Regions from separate parts of the Homo sapiens genome. Here region 2 is linked to region 1. Evidence: fine-mapped QTL for protein levels in blood plasma. A gene starts in region 1. The other region holds a variant in brackets. All regions are shown on one strand. Distances are from middle to middle.

Region 1 (5,388 bases):
CACTTGCAAAGGAGGAGTATAAAGAATTGTCCCATCACAACACTATATGATGTCATGCTACTGCATATCTCTTCCTAACACTGTATTCAGTGATACAACATTGGTAGTTTGAAATCAGCCATGGTGGGAATATTTAAACCATGGAAATTAGCAAACATTCTAAGTCAGACTTTTCCCCCCAGACAGCTGACATTTACCAGCACACATCAGGATGAATATAGAGCTATGTGTTCACAAAATTTTTATGAAGTAGACGAATTTTAGGAAGGGCTTTGAAAGAAGGAAATAAAATATTATTGATAAAGAAAAAGATAGTTTCTTAATTTAAAGATAATAGAGGTGAAGCAAGAAGTGGAGGGAGACCTAGGGAGTTTAAATATGCTCTTATGGATGCCTATAATGACATGAAGAAAAAGCAGCTCTTTCTTTCTCTTTTTGTTTCTTGTGTGTGCATGTGTGCACATGATTTGAAATGGAGATTGCATACTAAATTTAACTATGTGTACACACATTAAAGACTTGGCATACAAGATTTTTCTTTAATCCAGCAATCAGGATGGGTATATAATCTTTTACATAATTGCCTATGAAGCCACAAACAAGTAATCCATACGCCAGTAAAGTTGATACAGCTGACCTATACCTAAAATAGCTCAGAAATTCAAAGACCAAATTTTAGTTCATTTGAACTGATGCCTTGGTGTATGTAGTACGACCAATAATATGTGAGGAGTGCCACCATTTATCAAATGAGCAGGAATTCACTTCAAAAAGAAAATTTCCAGAATCATAGCATTTTAGGTCTGAAAGAGACAGTGGGAAACCTACAGTACATTATTTCTCAAAATGTCTTTGTCAATCAAACATCAACATCAGAAATGACTGGTCTTCTTTTTAAAACCTAGAAGCTTGTTAATACCTGAAACCCACCCCAGACCTGATGAATTCATAGGGGCTTAAGAATCTGCACATTCTATAAACTCTCTACATGATTCTGTTGCAAGCAAACGTTAGAGAGTGAAAAATCCAAACCTTTTATTTTATAGATTAGGGAAACAAACAACTAAGCTGTAAAAGAGAACCCCCTGCCCAACAAGTGAGACCACATAGTAGGCATGATTTTACACATTACAATTTTTTTTTCTCCAAAATAAAATTTTTTAAATCCAGCAATCAGGGTGGATATATAATCTTTTGTATAATTGCCTATGAAGCCACAAACAAGTAATACATATGCCAGTAAAGTTGGTACAGCTGACCTACACCTAAAAATAGCCCAGAAATTCAAAGACCAAGTTTTCATTCCAAAATTTTTTATTTTGGAGAAAATAGAACGCATATCCTTTGTTCAAAGAGACAGCTAAGGAACAACACAGGACTTCAATGAAAAATATGTTGTTTATGTGTGTAGTTACTAGTCAGTATGCCCCACCTAGCCACAAATTAGTGTGGTTACTCTAAATTGCTAACATGAAAATCTTAACCTCCTACTTCTGAAGTTATTTGGTTTTAGCTACTCAATTTTTTTTTCTAGGCTTCCAAGGTTGCTGTTTTGGGCATGGTTTTAGAAATATAATTATAAGTTTGATTTCAAACTTCTGGACCATGTAATCAAGCACAGACTGGTCATAGTGGAAAATATACAATTTTTAGCTCTGCCTACATTGACAAAAAAAAAAATGGCTGGATCCACATCAATTCAACTTGAGTGCCATGTGTTTACAGTGACAGTTTCTCCCCGAAAACGCAAAAAAAAAAAAAAAAAAAAAAAGAAGATCCATGCTGCTGTAGTATATGTACATAGGGGTGTTTAAAGCCAGCCCCTCCAGCAGCACCTTACCAACCATGTCTGTGCTTTTATTTATTGATCCAATAAGATGACTTAAATATCTAACTCCTTTTCCACGTAAAAGTTTTTATTATGTGCAATGCATTGTTAAACAGGTGAAGAATGAACAAGTTTAGAAAAACAAAGAAGCTTAACATGGAAAATTACCCGCATGGTGTCCACTTTTCCTGCTCGGTTGCAATACCCAATGGATTATTTATTAATTTAGATTTGTGCTGTCCCTGAATCCAAACAGCAGCCTCTTTAGAGTAACATCTGCTCCAGACATTGCTCCAGGAATATAAATCCCGACTAAGGGGTGGATATTTAAAGCTGTAAATGATTTTTTATTTTTACAATAGCTTTGCAAAAGGAACGGAGGTGTCATGTCATCATCAGAGTTTTCTTAACAGGATTTAATCTTAATGCCAAACTAAATCCTTTGTCTAAAGCATCAGCAGAGTTGTACTTATTTTCCCCATAGTATTAAAGAGGAGGGCTGGTGCAGGCACAGCCATATGACATTGCCTTATTTATTTTGTCTGTTTGTTTTCTGGAAGAATCTAGGAATGTGCATAAATACAATTAAGGACAGTATCTACAAATTGGAAGAAAGCATTTCTATTCTCTTAAACCTCTAAATCAAAGCACTTAATGTTCTGATTTCCAGCAAGACCTTCTAATAAATGAAAACCCAACCCTTGGGTTTGTGTTTTGACTCTTGATACAATTATGAAAGACGCATCAGGAGATGGCAAGTGGCTGCCAGTACTTCCTTTTTTCTGGAATATTCTCTAATTCTTGGTGGATCAAGATGGAAACTGGTAGGCTTGGAATAGATGTCCCTTTAAAAGGCTCCACTAACAATACAAGAATATTTTTTCCATACGCAGTGACGTGGGTGGGTCATGGGTGTCTCAATGACAGTAACGTTCCCGAACCCCGGACCTTAGCTGTCATTTCACCTGCGTCGTCCCGGACGCCATTTGGCTGTTGACGTGGTTCCGAGCCAGCAAATAACGCCAGCAGCCCTCCCAGATCCACGCCGGCCCGTCTCTCCGCCGGCCCCCTCCTCGCAGTGGTTTCTCCTGCAGCTCCCCTGGGCTCCGCGGCCAGTAGTGCAGCCCGTGGAGCCGCGGCTTTGCCCGTCTCCTCTGGGTGGCCCCAGTGCGCGGGCTGACACTCATTCAGCCGGGGAAGGTGAGGCGAGTAGAGGCTGGTGCGGAACTTGCCGCCCCCAGCAGCGCCGGCGGGCTAAGCCCAGGGCCGGGCAGACAAAAGAGGCCGCCCGCGTAGGAAGGCACGGCCGGCGGCGGCGGAGCGCAGCGATGGCCGGGCGAGGGGGCAGCGCGCTGCTGGCTCTGTGCGGGGCACTGGCTGCCTGCGGGTGGCTCCTGGGCGCCGAAGCCCAGGAGCCCGGGGCGCCCGCGGCGGGCATGAGGCGGCGCCGGCGGCTGCAGCAAGAGGACGGCATCTCCTTCGAGTACCACCGCTACCCCGAGCTGCGCGAGGCGCTCGTGTCCGTGTGGCTGCAGTGCACCGCCATCAGCAGGATTTACACGGTGGGGCGCAGCTTCGAGGGCCGGGAGCTCCTGGTCATCGAGCTGTCCGACAACCCTGGCGTCCATGAGCCTGGTAAGGGCGCTGCCCCCTGACAGCCCTGGGGGCATCCCGGAGGGGGGCGGCAGAGGGTGGGACTGGTGGCGGTGGGGGAAGGAGGGAGGGATGGGCCCAGGGGTGCCTCTTGGTAAAAGGTATCTAAGGTGGAAGGTGGGAAGTGGAGGGAGGGATGGAAATGGGGAAGAACCCGACTTAGAGCGCCAGTGGCCCAATTTCTGCTTTCCCGTCCCATCCCCCCAGCACCAATCCCATCTCCCCAGACCTTAGGCCACCCTCTAGTAAGTATAGGCTTGGGAGGCTGGGGTGGCGGGGGATGGGGGGGATAGCAATACAGAAAAAACAAATCCTGACGCACGCAACCCCAGCGGTCGCTCTCACTTTGCTGTGTGAAAAACCCAAAGGAATGATTGCGAGTCCCCCGCAAGGGGGGTTGGTCTTCCTTGCTGACAAGAGTAGAAAGATAAGGTGCAGAAGGCAGTGATTGAGAGGAAAGGAGAACGAGGGAGAAAGAGTCATTTATCATGTTTTCTCTAATTTCCAGAGGACCAGTTTATTGGCTCTGTGTACCCATCTCTACCTGTGTGTGTATACGTATTAGGTACACTCGCTGCTGTGGATGCTTGGGGAATCTTAGGGATATTGCCAATCTGGGGTGGTGGTGTATAAAGATACGTTGGTGCCCCTCCTCCTACCAGGGTGAAAAGTGGTTTCTGACTTTTGAAACCAGATTTTGAAACTGCACAAGGCCTTTCCAAGGAAAAAGGAGTATTCCATTTTCTCTGCTATAACCATTTGAGATGAATAGTTTGTGATGGGGTCTTTATTCCAACTGATGTTCCCAAATAACCATCTGTATTCGTCTTTCCTAGGAGTATATTAAAGCACCTTTTGGTTTATGTTAATTGTGATGCATTTAGTATTAATAAAGAGGTATTTAAAAATGTTCTTGGGACTTTTTTCGTTATGTTTCTGCTTAGGAAATAATTTGGGCCTGGTCTTCTGATAATCAAGGTACAGCTAAAGTAATCTGTGCTAATAATATCAGCATGGGATGGATGCTTAATTTTTGTTTAATGACAAAGCAAGCAAGAAAAGTAGGCTAAAAATTCTCAGTGCAGGGCCAGTATAGTTTTATAATGATACGTAAGAACCAAACTGAGAAGAGATTAAAATAAGTGATCAATAGACATTTTGATCTTCAAATATATAGTAGGTGGGTTGATCAAGAATAAATCTTCAGGAAATATTTCTTACCTTCAAATAATATAAGAAAAAAAGGTTCATGTAAGTTTGCTGTCAAAATTCTAAGATCAGATCCTAGAAAACATTTAATATTAACTACTCTTATCTACCAGGATTCAGCATGTAGGATTGGACATTTTGAAACTTAGTTTCATACTGTTATCTGAAGACAGGGAAAAATTTAAAATGTGATAACTGATTTTCAGCTAAATCCAATAACCAAAGCCAAGATATCCTAGGCACAGTTAAAGCTAATGTAAGTATTTGTGAGTCTCCTGCTGCTTACTTAATGAGAACCCTTTGTTACTCTATTTTGTAGATTGATCCCAGAGTTTTTTGCGTTGTTACTTCAAGAGATTATATGAAAGCTAATGTTTAACTTTTTGTTGTTTCAAATTTGGAAATAAAATTTTAAAGTGATATTACAGTTAGAATGTGATATGCTTTAGAAAATGAAAACAATGATTTCTTTGCTTAAGTATCTGGAATATATAGTTCATCAAGGTTTGCAAATCCTTCTTTTAGATTGCAAGCTGTATGAAGTGGGGACCCTGATTCCAGCACCCAGCTCATGTTTGGCACACAGCGGGCTTGAATATACATTATGAAATAATCTACATTATGGAAAAATACTGAATATGCAGTGTGGAAAAAATGAATCCATCAATAGCTGCATAACACAGTGTATTAAAATAAAA
Region 2 (5,388 bases), 120 kb before region 1:
TTTGTTGTTTGAATTGGGAGGTGCTAGAAAGAAAAGTAAAAACATTTTGTATTGTAGTTATAAAATGCACTCTCATGGTTCTATATTCGCTTGATAACTAATGAGGCATCAAATACATTTATCATTTTTGTATGCTATGTTTCTTCTTTTGCAAATTTTCCCTGATTACATCTTTTATGTTGAGAATATTTGATCAAAAAAGGAAGCTACCTATATTGTGAATGATCTGGGATAAAACATCATCTTATGCGGGAGAGAGTAAATCTTGGTGTTCAATTCTCATGAGGTAGAATGTTCAATCCAAGAAAAAAAGCGCTGAGTCAGAGCTGATGTGCTACATGGTCATTGCCATGCATTGTGTTAAATCGTTGACTGACATTTAATTTTTCAATAACCCTGAAAGGTAGGTGGTGTCTTCATTATCCATTTGAGCCACTCTCAAATAAGTTGGACTTTTAAGAGAAACCTTGGGTTAAAAGTAGTAGAAGTAGCAACTGGAAAAAGGATAGTGTAGGAGAGATGGCTTTCAGTCTGCCTGAGGCTGCTTTGCCCCCAAATTTCTCCTCTCCATACTACCTTTGCTTTTCTACTTCATTAATTATAACATTGGAAATGCCACCAATTGCAGTTGTATTCTGCTTAAGAGTCAACCTCTCTTAAAATGTTAAAAACCCCTAGAAGGGATTTATTCTGGAAGATCTTGTGTTATTAGCCATTAATATGAGCTAATCAGACAGTTTTTTTGTGGGGAGGGGGAGGTTGTTTTTGTTTTTTTTAAACTCTGTGGGACATACCTATTCCTAGGGGTGGAGTGTTGGGAGGAGGCAGGCGAGGTTGCATGTGGGGTACAGGAAAGGAGGAGGAAGAAAGTTTCCTTCCTCTTTCTGGGATGTAGGGGGCTGGCCCGGTGCAGAGTTTTGACATAGGAAATGTTTGTCCTTGGCACTCTGCCATCTCCTTATTCATACTTCTACATCTCAAAACCCTACTCCTTGGCCGCAAAACCCAGCCCTCTGCTATGTGCATCCAACCATGACTCTCCACCCAGATCTGCCTTTCTTGTCACTAAGCGTTTCATCTTCTAAACACATCACCCTTGCCTACCTTCTCCCCACACTCCTCCCCAAGCTCCACCTTGCAGGATAGCTATGGCTAGCTGAGTCAAAAACAACAGCAACAACAAAAGCTGTCTTTTCATGCTTGCATGTTTTCTTAGATATTTAGAAGTTATATATATGTGGAGCAATCGGACCCTTTGGTAGTCTCTTCCTAATAAGCAAACTGCTAATGGCTCAGGATTTAAAAGACATACTACATAAATTATTTCCCCCTATGGAATAAATATGCAAGCTGAAAATAAACTACAGATCCTAATAGCCAAGCAGAAGGAGTATACTTGTCTAAGCGAAACATCTTCTATGTAATTTGGCTTGTCAAACAATGTGAAGTAGGATGAAAGCATCTTTACAATGTGCAGCTGGTGTGAGAGTGTCACACAGATGCTAATTGTTTGGCTTGGGTGTCTTCCATTTCTCATGCTCTACAGTGTCTTCTCTGATCAGTGGTGGCTTCTCCCCTCCGTTTCTTTGTTTATTGCAGAAAGCATCTCCACGGTAAAAAATGTGCAGCCTTTTATTTGTCTCCATTGGTTGGAAATCAACATGTACAAATAAAAAAGCTTTTTTTTCCCCGTTTTTCAAAATGACAACATTTTAAGTTAGATTTATTTAATCAGGTGCTATGTCCTTCTACTTCATGTTTCTCCAAACACTTAAAACTGTTGCTGTTCACCGAACAGGAAGAGTAACGTGTAGAGCCTGGTTACTGTTCTACAAAACACTGGCTTGATGATCAAAGGCCTTTCAGACTCCAAAGGCCTTTCAACACGCCAAAGTGAGGCAATCTCTAGTGAGTGGTGGGTAATATTTCCCGGAGAAGCCACAGTCCATATATAGCTCCCCTTAACCCTTGTTATATTTGCTAGCATTGTAGAGATCCAGAAAGAAATTTCTTTACTTGCTTCTCCCTGACTTTCTTTTAAATAATATTTGACCATTTAAATGGTACATAGAAAATGCACCACTTAACAAATACATAAAATTTAACAAATATGTAAAAATAAATAGGAAATGTTCATATCACACCTAACCAGAGATAAAACATATTAACAATTGTGGTATAGCCCTCTAATACTGTTTGTTGTTATGTACACATGTGTTTACCCAAAAAAGGGGTCATACTGTAGATTCTTTTAGAAACTAGCTTTTTATACTAAATGTATTAGAAACATTTTTCCAAGTCATTAAATATTTGTCTACTGTATCTCTTTTAAGAGCTGAAAAATATTCAATTTCATTGATATTATAGAATTGACTTTATTTTTCTCTTGTTATTGGACATTTAAGTTCTTCTCAATTTTTTATAATTTAAACAGCACTATAATTAATAGTTCTTTAGCTAAGTATATTCACATTCGCAGTTTGTTCCATTGTGTAATATAACAGCTTGGGGTCCTTCTGCAAGCAAGGCTTATGTGCAGTTCATTTATTTGGGAAGTGATCCCAAGGAGCCACAGTGAGTGAATGGAGGACTTGAGCTGGAAAGGAGGGAAAACCGGTTCATAGGTGCAGTACAGATCTGGCCATAGCTACATGTGACGGGACCTTTGAAAGCCTTATAAAATATGTCTCAGAACTGTCTTCTAGGAGAATACCAGGGGGAAGTATTTCTCTTCCTTTGATGCATTCTCCACTAGTCAAGGGTGGTCCCACAGCATTATTTCCTGCATGCTTCCAGACTGTGTGGGTATGAGCCCAGTGCATCACTGAAGGCCTAGGATAGGAAGCCAGAGAGAGGTATGGCCAGGGGCTGGGGTGAGGCCCTGTTACGTTACATCTTCAGAAAGGTGGTCAAAGCCTGCTTGGGCCTGGTTGCTGCAGTGGTGGGTTGGGCAAGAAGTAAGGCTGAGAAGATTTGTGGTAGGCTACAAGAAGTGTCTGGTACATATACATTCCTAGAAACAGAGCTTGTAATTTTGTCTCAAAGGACATGCACAATTGTATCTCAAAATAGAAATACACATGGGAGTCATAAAATTATGTTCAGGTTGATTCATTTATGAGGTACACATTCTGAGACCTGAGGATGTGGCAGGGGGTAACAGACGTGATCCTACTGCCACAGAGCTTACATTCCTTTGCAGGAAGACAGTAAACATGGGAACAAATACATAACATCAGTGCTGACAGCAGTAGGTGCTGTGAAGCAAATGAAATGGAGCAGTGCTGTTAGTAGTGACTTGAAAGGGACTGAGCCCATGGTGAGAACACCAGGGTTCTC[A/G]TGATTTTAGATGGCACACAGATAAACTGAGAGTGAAGAGACTCAGGGTTCGGTTGATGGAATAGAACTAAAGGAGAAGGATGTAGGAAGGAGGGGCGAGGGCCTCTTTACATTCACTGTCCGCTTTACATTTTTCCTAGAGGCAGATGTACCCAAGAGAGATATTTTGGCTTTTGGAGTGTGGCCTTCCCTCAGTGCATACACTATATGGAATTTAATCACTCTTAGATTCTTAGAAAATATTTTTAACATTCAAAATATATATCAAATTATAATTGCTCCATCTTTGATGTTTTGGAATATACTTAAATCCAGAGAATAACAAAATTTAGGGCAGAATTTTTTTTTTCATATCATACCAAGAGTACTGTATAGAAATCCAAGGTACTGCATGATGGTCTGTGCTTAACTATGACAAAAAAAAAAAAAAAAAAGGATCATAGAGTGCCTTGGGGTTATTTTTAATCAATCTCAGGGTTAACACTAGTGCAACTCTGCACTAGATGGAAATTTCCATTAGATGGTGGCTGGGGGTTTATTGTATCAATGTAATTCTACCTCATATGAGAAGCAGCACTGTTCAACTGCTCCTTTGCTTCAGAGAGCTCAGAAAATAAGTTTCAAAGACATAAATTTATTCATTGGACCTTTTAGTTACAATGCCCAAGATATTTTTGTGACCTAAATAGCAAATTAAGAAATCACCTCTTTACATTGCTAGGTGTTTCTCACATTTGTTACCAATAGTACAATGTATCTACTTCAGTAGAAAGTAAGCCAAGGGATTATGATAGCTCCAGATTAAAGCACATTCTTCATTTTCAGTGATATGTAAAACCACAGGATCAGAATTACATTAGATATTGAAAGACTAGAATATTAAATCTGATCTCCTAAATCAGGGTTTTCCAAATTCTGATCACTTGTAATCATTTGTGGGCCAGCTTCAGGATTTTGCTATATTCTACAAGTGCTGATGCTATTAAATTTTTAATGTTTTTCTCTACAGTGAGTCAATTTTTGCTTAAATAAGTTTACTTGAGAAGGAATGTTTATATTATTGTATTATTGAAATAAATGGAAAATAACTTAAAAAAATGTATTTCTAACTATGAACCTATATTCTTTTTTTTTTTTCTTTGAGATGGAGTCTCACTGTGTCACCCAGGCTGGAGTACAGTGGTCCGATCTTGGCTCACTGCAACCTCCGCCTCCTGGGTTCAAGCAATTCTCCTTCCTCAGCCTCTCAAGTAGCTGGGATTACAGGTGTGCACCACCATGCCCAGCTAATTTTTGTATTTTTAGTAGAAACGAGGTTTTGCTATGTTGGCCAGGCTGGTCTTGAACTCCTACTCCTGACCTCAAATGCTCTGCCCACCTTAGCCTCCCAAAGTGCTGGGATTACAGGTGTGAGCCACCAAGCCTGCCCTGAACCTATATTCTTAACTATTAATGCAAGAAGTTTATCTGTATGTCATCTAAAATCATTATGCACATTTTGGTTAGTACCGCTCTCATAGCAGGCTTGGCCTGTCCCATACCAGGTGTGTGACCTTTAGCAAGTTACCCAACTTCTCCTACCCTCTGTATTCGCTTGTGTATGATGGAGATAATGAGATATTATTGTCTGGCAAGTGCTTAGCACAGTGCCTGATGTAGTAATTACTCAGTAAATGGAAGTAACTGCAATAATGCATTGTTGAAGTGGTTGTTGTCTTTATTATTCTTCATGAAAAGGACAGTGTTGGAGATTTAGAAATTATACAAATACTTCCATTCTGCACCTAAATTTGGGGTTGAAGGTATTAGAACAGTAGACCAAAGAGCTGACCAATTTGATTATATCCCTAGCTTTCCATGACTCGCTGTATGACTTGGTCAAGCCGTTTAACCCCTCGAGGGTGTGGTTTCTTCATCACACAAATTAGAAGGTTTGATTTGATTTGATCTCAAAACTTTCAGCTTGCAGGGTGACAGCTGTTTGAGTGGTTTTGATCATGGGATGTGGTTCATCTGAAGTCAGAGCATTTTAAATTTTGTTTTAAGTGG

Which allele goes with the higher level. Alleles are on the strand shown, and positions count from the first base shown. The strength of an association depends on the size of the effect and on how common the allele is.
With allele A in place of G in region 2, the plasma level of the protein whose gene starts at base 2,943 in region 1 is lower (weak association).

Evidence for each region. A credible set is the group of variants that fine-mapping cannot tell apart. PIP is the chance, under the fine-mapping model, that this variant and not a neighbour inherited with it causes the effect. The UK Biobank Pharma Proteomics Project read protein levels with antibody pairs (Olink). The fine-mapping took linkage between variants from a reference panel, not from the people measured, so its PIPs are less certain.
Region 2: its variant is the best candidate, but not a certain one, in a credible set for the plasma level of the CPE protein (UK Biobank, PIP 0.85).

The regions. Positions count from the first base shown.
Region 1 is chr4:165,376,066-165,381,453 of GRCh38, forward strand. It overlaps CPE (carboxypeptidase E), which reads left to right and starts at 2,943. Exons shown (of 9, transcript NM_001873.4): 1 at 2,943-3,463. The coding sequence starts at 3,157. RefSeq lists a silencer at 2,976-3,235 and an enhancer at 4,715-5,259.
Region 2 is chr4:165,254,641-165,260,028 of GRCh38, forward strand. All of the region lies in intron 4 of KLHL2 (kelch like family member 2), which reads left to right. Among named protein-coding and RNA genes, the nearest start is that of GK3, 22 kb to the right of the region's middle. The variant A/G (reference allele first, on the strand shown) is at 3,340.